Homo sapiens: one gene and its partner. The protein of the gene in region 1 interacts with the protein of each later gene in a pairwise test. Each region holds a gene or a part of one and is shown in the gene's direction. Other genes may lie near its edges.

Evidence for each region. Proteins that work in one complex are often made in the same cells at the same time.
Region 2: the proteins of CAMK1D (region 1) and ASAH1 interact in a two-hybrid assay, tested with the Homo sapiens proteins (one large-scale study listed by BioGRID and IntAct).

What each region holds. Positions count from the first base shown.
Region 1 is NC_000010.11:12,758,547-12,762,046, forward strand, and holds part of CAMK1D (calcium/calmodulin-dependent protein kinase type 1D), read left to right. Parts: intron 1-2,401; coding exon 2,402-2,540; intron 2,541-3,500. UniProt on the Homo sapiens protein: Calcium/calmodulin-dependent protein kinase that operates in the calcium-triggered CaMKK-CaMK1 signaling cascade and, upon calcium influx, activates CREB-dependent gene transcription, regulates calcium-mediated granulocyte function and respiratory burst and promotes basal dendritic growth of hippocampal neurons.
Region 2 is NC_000008.11:18,067,108-18,070,607, reverse strand, and holds part of ASAH1 (acid ceramidase isoform a preproprotein), read left to right. Parts: intron 1-729; coding exon 730-816; intron 817-3,309; coding exon 3,310-3,388; intron 3,389-3,500. UniProt on the Homo sapiens protein: Lysosomal ceramidase that hydrolyzes sphingolipid ceramides into sphingosine and free fatty acids at acidic pH.

The sequences.
Region 1 (3,500 bases):
AACAGTACATGCTATCCTTTGATGCTTCAGTTTTCACTGCATTGCTGCCCTATGGCACTGCTGTAAGACAGAAAATATTTTATGCAGATTTTTTCATTCAGTAGAATTCGTCCATACCTTATATATCACATAATGGGAAAAAAGAGGACCTTGACAGAATGGGAAGCAGGACAGGTAGGTTTTGAGGGACGCAGGTTGGCCAGGTTTGGATCATGGGGTCCTAAGGGCAGGAGGTGGTGGGAGCAGTGGAAGGGGTAAGCGTTCTTGCCAGAGGTCATCCAGCAGTTGCAGAGGAGAGGAGGCAGTAGCAGGCAGAACAGTGAGAAGCAAGCCCTGGAGACAGCAGTTAGGGAGGCTGCTACTGGAAGGGGGCCTATGTGGAAGGGCATAATCGTAACAGACGTTCCGCCTTCAGAGTGAAAGCTGCCTCGATTGCATCCCACTGGGCATGCTCACTGGCATGTAATGGGCACCCAGGAAATGTTGAGTGAGTAGTTGAATAAATAATTAAGTGAATGCAGGCCGGATGCAGTGGCTCACGCCTGTAATCCCAGCACTTTGGGAGGCTAAGGCGGGAGGATCTCTTCAGCCCAGGAGTTTGAGACCAGACTGGGCAACATGGTGAAACTCCGTCTCTACTAAAAATACAAAAATTAGCCGGGTGTGGTGGCACGTACCTGTGGTCCCAGCTACTCAGGAAGCTGATGTAGGGTGGGAGGATCGCTTAAGCCCTGTAGGTCAAGGCTGCAGAGAGCTGTGATCATGCCACTGCATTCCAGCTTGGGCTGCAGAATGAGACCCTGTCTCAGAAAAAATAAGAAGTGAATGTCTCTAGGGCACCCAGACTCACCTTGTCCCTAACAGCAGTCTACCTCTTCTGGTACATTCTCGAGCTCTGCAAAGTTTCAGATGTTGAAACTTGTTGGGGGAAGGTTCTTGAAAAATGATGAGAGGAGAGAAGTTGGTGTCAGGAGGAGTATCTTGGGCTCTTGGCTTACCTAAGCATGGATCATTGAGACAACACGGTCATCAAAATGTAGTTTCTCCCAGTCGTTTCCGTTTCTTTTCACTCTTGGAATTGCTTTTTTATTTCTCCTGAGCACCTTTTCTTTCTTACCTAGATTGTCAGTTTGCCTTGGAAATGAAACATTATCCAAGCACAATATTGCCTGCTATGACTATAGGTAATGGAAGAGACAAGCACATAGGCCTTTTACGGCTGCAGTGGTTGTTTGATTAGTTTTTTTAAAAGAAGGTTTCAGTGGATCAGTTATTGCGCATAAATTGTCGTGCCTTTTGGAAAATGAATCTTATCTTTGTGTGTTTGTGTATGAGTGTGTGTTACCGTAGGGCTTGTCTTTTGTTATATCTGTGAAAGCTTTAAGGGTTGTTTATTTAAGTTGCTTTTTGATTTTAGCATTTCAAATCTGTCTCATCTTGTTTTTGAAAAATGTTTCTTTCTTTTTTTTCAGTAGTGTTAATAAATCCCTTGAAATTTATTTCCAAGATGGCTTAATGATTTGAGATGATTTGGAGAACACTAGTTGAGTTGTTTGTATTCTGGCTTGTACACTTCCATTATTTTGTTGAACTCAGGGCAGCATAAAATATCAGAGCTGAAAGGTGCCAGAGAGGTTGCCCCCACAGGGCTTCTTGACCCTTGCCAACCTAGTCCCATTTTGAAAAATGTTTAAAAATGTTAAATGCAATCTGAAATGCAAAGCTAATAAAAAGGATACAGCATCACTAAAACCAAAGCAAAGTAATGAAATATAGTCTTGATTTCTTGCCTGCTTTTTCATAAATCACAAGTGGCTTTGAGGTTCTGATCATTCCGAAGGCATGCTCCCACCCACTGTTGAAATGGGTGACTAGATTCATCCCCTAATTTTACACATAAAAACATCAAGGTCCAGGGATTCAGGCGGTGTTCGTATCCCAGTATATTAGGAGCAGAACTTGGTCAAAAACCCACACATCCCGTTGGCAGGCCAGCGTTTTGCCCACAACACTCTCGGTCATTTAAGGATACTGTCTCATGCAAAGGAGACATTTTATTCAGGGTCATCTTCCTGTATCCGAGGACGCTGGTATTCAGGAAGGGTTTTTTTAAACTTTACATCATCACAGCAGAACAGAGGCAGAGGCCTGGACAGAACCCAGGTGTGGCTGGTCCGTGGATCGTGTTTTTTTAAATTTCCTTTACTTGGTTCCAGACATTTGCTCTGCTGTGACATGGAAACATTTCCTGGCTATAGCCTCTGAGGAATAGGGGGGCAACATCTCAATCTGAAGATGGATTCATTTTTGCAATAAAGTTTGGGATTTTTTTCACATTGGAAGCTTTCCCTTCACAATTCAACAGATCCTTTCAAACTTCTAATATGTTCTTTTTTGCCAGGGTGTCCGGTGGAGAGCTGTTTGACCGGATAGTGGAGAAGGGGTTTTATACAGAGAAGGATGCCAGCACTCTGATCCGCCAAGTCTTGGACGCCGTGTACTATCTCCACAGAATGGGCATCGTCCACAGAGACCTCAAGGTGAGGCCATCGCTCAGCAGCATCCTGCAGCCACTCTGCAGCCCGCAATGCACGCGACCAAGAGGGCTGATGCCAGTGGGGGCATGCAGCTGCTCTGATGTAGAGTGGGTGCAGCAGATGGTGGGCATTTGTGTACTTTGAGTTGTCAGGGCCTTTGGGATCCAGACCCAGAAGTATCTTGGAAGAAGATGAAGATTCACATGGCTGGCCACTGTTCATGAGATTTTTACAACCATTATGTAGCCAAAGGGTTACAGGGAGGTGGGTTATATATTGCTTCGAGCCTATCTAAGAGACGATTTTGCTCAAGACACGTAGGCTACAGAAACCCTCCTCCCGGTGCAGTTCCGCAGCACCTTTGCCAATTCCAGCCCCATTGCAGCACAACACACTGTATAAAAGAAAGAGAGCAGTGGTCAGACATCATGAGAGGAAAGTGAAGGGAAACAGAAGGTAAGCAGATATAGAAGAGGGAGAAGAGAAATAGAAGGGAAAAAGACAGGTTAAAAGAGCTATGACTGGCTGGGCGTGGTGGCTCAGGCCTGTAATCCCAGCACTTTGGGAGGCCGAGGAAGGCAGATCATGAGGTTAAGAAATCAAGACCATCCTGGCCAACACGGTGAAACCCCATCTCTACAAAAATACAAAAATTAGCTGGGTGTGGTGGCGCGTGCCTGTAGTCCCAGCTACACAGGAAGCCGAGGCAGGAGAATCGTTTGAACCCAGGAGGCGAAGGTTGCAGTGAGCCGAGATCGCACCACTGCAGTCCAGCCTGGCAACAGAGCGAAACTCCGTCTCAAAAAAAATAAATAAATAAAAATAGTGTCTTGCAGGTTCTTTTCTTACAGTTTCCTAATGAGGTTTTGGTATATTGACCCTTTCCCCGTTGGCACAGAAGGATCTGGGCCTTATATTGGCATATATGCCCCTCCCCAGCAGGTCTATGTAGACACTGAAGGA
Region 2 (3,500 bases), on another chromosome or scaffold:
TGTATTAATGTATTAATCGAGGCCAGGCACGGTGGCTCATGCCTGTAATCAATCCCAGTACTTTGGGAGGCTGAGGCAGGCGGATCACCTGAGATCAGAAGTTCAAGACCAGCCTGGCCAACATGGTGAAACCCTGTCTCTATTAAAAATACAAAAATTAGGCCAGGCGCGGTGGCTCATGCCTGTAATCCCAGCACTTTGGGAGGCCGAGGCGGGTGGATCACGAGGTCAGGAGTTCGAGACCAGCCTGGCCAAGATGGTGAAACCCCGTCTCTACTAAAAATACAAAAATTAGCCAGGCATGGTGGTGCATGCCTGTAGTCCCAGCTACTTGGGAGGCTGAGGCAAGAGAATCGCTTGAACCCGGGAGGCAGAGGTTGCGGTGAGCAGAGATCGTGCCATTGCACTCCGGCCTGGGCGACAAGAGCAAAACTCCGTCTTAAAAAAAAAAATACAAAAATTAGCTGGGAATGGTGATGCACACTTGTAATCTCAGCTACTTGGGAGGCTGAGGCAGGAGAATCGCTTGAACCTGGGAGGCAGAGATTGCAGTGAGCCGAGATGGTGCTACTGCACTCCAGCCTGGGTGACAGAGCGAGATGCTGTTTTAAAAAATATATATATAAATTGTCAAATAGCACTCTCTTTTAGCTACATATGGGTAAGCCAAAAGGTAATCTTGACAGCATTTCATTATGTCTTTTAGTAAGCATTTTATTTATTTTTCAGCTAAAGGTTATAGTGAATTCTCTGAAGAATATGATAAATACATTCGTGCCAAGTGGAAAAATTATGCAGGTGGTGGATGAAAAATTGGTAAGAGATATTATTTCTCACAATAAATGTTAAGCACATAGAAAATGCGCTGTTATTTATTTAAAGGCATAATTCAGCAACCTCTTCGCAGGGACTTGGGCAAATCTGCATGAATCTAGCTCACTGTCAGAACTTCAGAGGGACTTAAATTTGGGGAATTGGTAATATTAGGGTTACAGCATAGCAAATTATGGTTTCGTAAAAGGGGATGGGACTACATTACGACATTGGGCAAATAACCATATTTCATCTGGGAGTGTGGTATTTCCTTCCCTTTATGTAGTGAGTTCACTATTGAAGACTTGGTTTTTTTTCTTAAGTGTCTCAGGGACATCCAGAGATTTTTTTTTTGTAGATATGAGCAAATGACATACTCAGCCTGGCCCCTTATTCTGTAGAGTTCCTCAGTAGCTCTGACCCTGAAACTCATTTGGGCTGAGTGTTTCTGTGCAATCACCAAACCATTTCATTTTCATCCTCATCATGCAGGAAGACTCCATTTCTCAGCCCCGTTTTTGTTGACGCAGAACCAATGAAACACCTAGGGCCTGGCCCCTAGAACTGTTAAAGGGATCCTCATTGCTCTTGATGGCAGATTTTGGGCATTAATGACATTTGGGGTTGGGCAGCTTTTTTTTTTTTTTTTTTTTTGAGACCTCATCTCACTCTGTAGCCCAGGCTGGAGTGCACTGGCATGATCATAGCTCACAGCTGCCTTGATCTCCCAGGCTCAAGGGATCCTTCTGCCTCAGCCTCCTGAGTAGCTGGGACTACAGTCACGTGCCGCCACACCCAGCTACTTTTCTGAATTTTTAGTAGAGACGGAGGCTTGCTGTGTCACCCAGGCTGGTCTCCCAACTCCTGGGCTCAGGCGATCTTCCCGCCTCAACCTCCCAAAGTGTTCTCCCAAAGTGTTGGGATCGTAGGTGTGAACCGCCATGCCCGGCCTGGGTTGGATATTTCTTTGTCGTGGGCTTGTCTACATTCCAGGATGCCCGGCCTGGGGTGGGTGTCTCTTTTTTGTGGGGCTGTCATGTGCATTGCAGGATGTTTAGCAGCTCAGGATGCCCGGCCTGGGGTGGGTGTCTCTTTTTTGTGGGGCTGTCATGTGCATTGCAGGATGTTTAGCAGTGTCCCTGGCCCTTACCCACTGGATGCTGGTAACACCCCCTCAGTTGTGACAACCAAAAATGTCCTTAGATGTTACCAAATCTCCCGTGGTCGAGAATCATTGCCCTAGCGGCTGAGTGCTGTGGCCACATCCTCCCTATGACACTTGTACCTGCCAAGCACCAAACCCATTATCCCTCACGTGCATGCTCTCGGAGCTTTTGTTTCAGGCTATCCTTTATGTTCATACTTACCGGACTTCCTCAAAACAAAAAAATGCTGGCAGGAGCAAAAGAGGATGAGGCCCCCACGTTCCCCGTATGCCTTAATCTCCCCTCTACTCTGAATGTTATCAGGGAGGGCAACATTGCAGAGAGTTTTTGTGCCACGCCTTGGAATCGGACAATACTGGGTTTTAAGGCTGGATCAGTCACATACTAGCCTTGTGTCCTAGGGAAAGTTTCTTAACCTATGAAACCTCAGTTTTCTCATCAGGGAGAATAATAATTACTAATATATATTTCATATGGTGGTTGTAAGGGTTAAATGACATACTGTGTATAAAGCATAGTGCTTGGATGTAATAAGTGTTTAATAAATACCCATTACGTCACATTTGTTTGTTAAATGGCTGGAACATTCCACTTGGGGAATGCTTTGAGTTCCTAGGGAGAAAAAAAATATGTTTAGGTGACATTACATGTAATTACCAAGTTGGTTAAAAAAGTGAGATTCGTGAATTTTAAGCAGATTATCTCAGCAAAAGGCCGTGAACTTAAGTTGTGATCTGGATGTTAGTAGTTGCCATTGAGAATAAATATATGATGTCCACCACTGAATTTGCTCAATGTCTCTGGTTTGCTAAAAGAATGCAGTTACTTCATCTTAGCTGAAGATCAGCCATTAACCATGACACAGGGCTATGGATAGAATAGTGCAGGTTTATCTCTGTGAGTGTGGGAAGGAAATGGTAAGAACGGTATATGCCAGTGGCTAGAGGGTGAATTCGTGCAGAGAGATAAGGAGTGCTTGTTATGATGTTTTTGTGGTGTGGGTCAGGTTAGGTCATCCAAGTGGAATTACTCTCGTTCCTGCCTTCTCTGGAGAATGATGGAAAAATAAGGCAGGAAAAACAATCTGAGAATCTGGTCTCTGTATAGGGGCCCAATATTCAGTATTACATAGAATCTTTTTATAACTACATGATGTAAAAATGCTTTAAAAAATAATTCCTATCACTTATTATGATAGCAGTATCTAGAAAAAATTATATGTCCAAGAACTAGATTTCAAAGCATGCTTTTATTATATTTGTTTATATTATATTATATATTTTTTATTGTTATTATGTTAAATGCTTTTATTAATATATTTGTTTTCCAGCCTGGCCTACTTGGCAACTTTCCTGGCCCTTTTGAAGAGGAAATGAAGGGTATTGCCGCTGTTACTGATATACCTTTAGGTAAAGTTCACTTAGAAGCTTTAAAAAAAAAAGTAATTAAATTCTTTTACAAGTTTCCATTGAGGTGTGATATACATACAGCACAGGTGCTGTATGTCTTAGATATACAGCA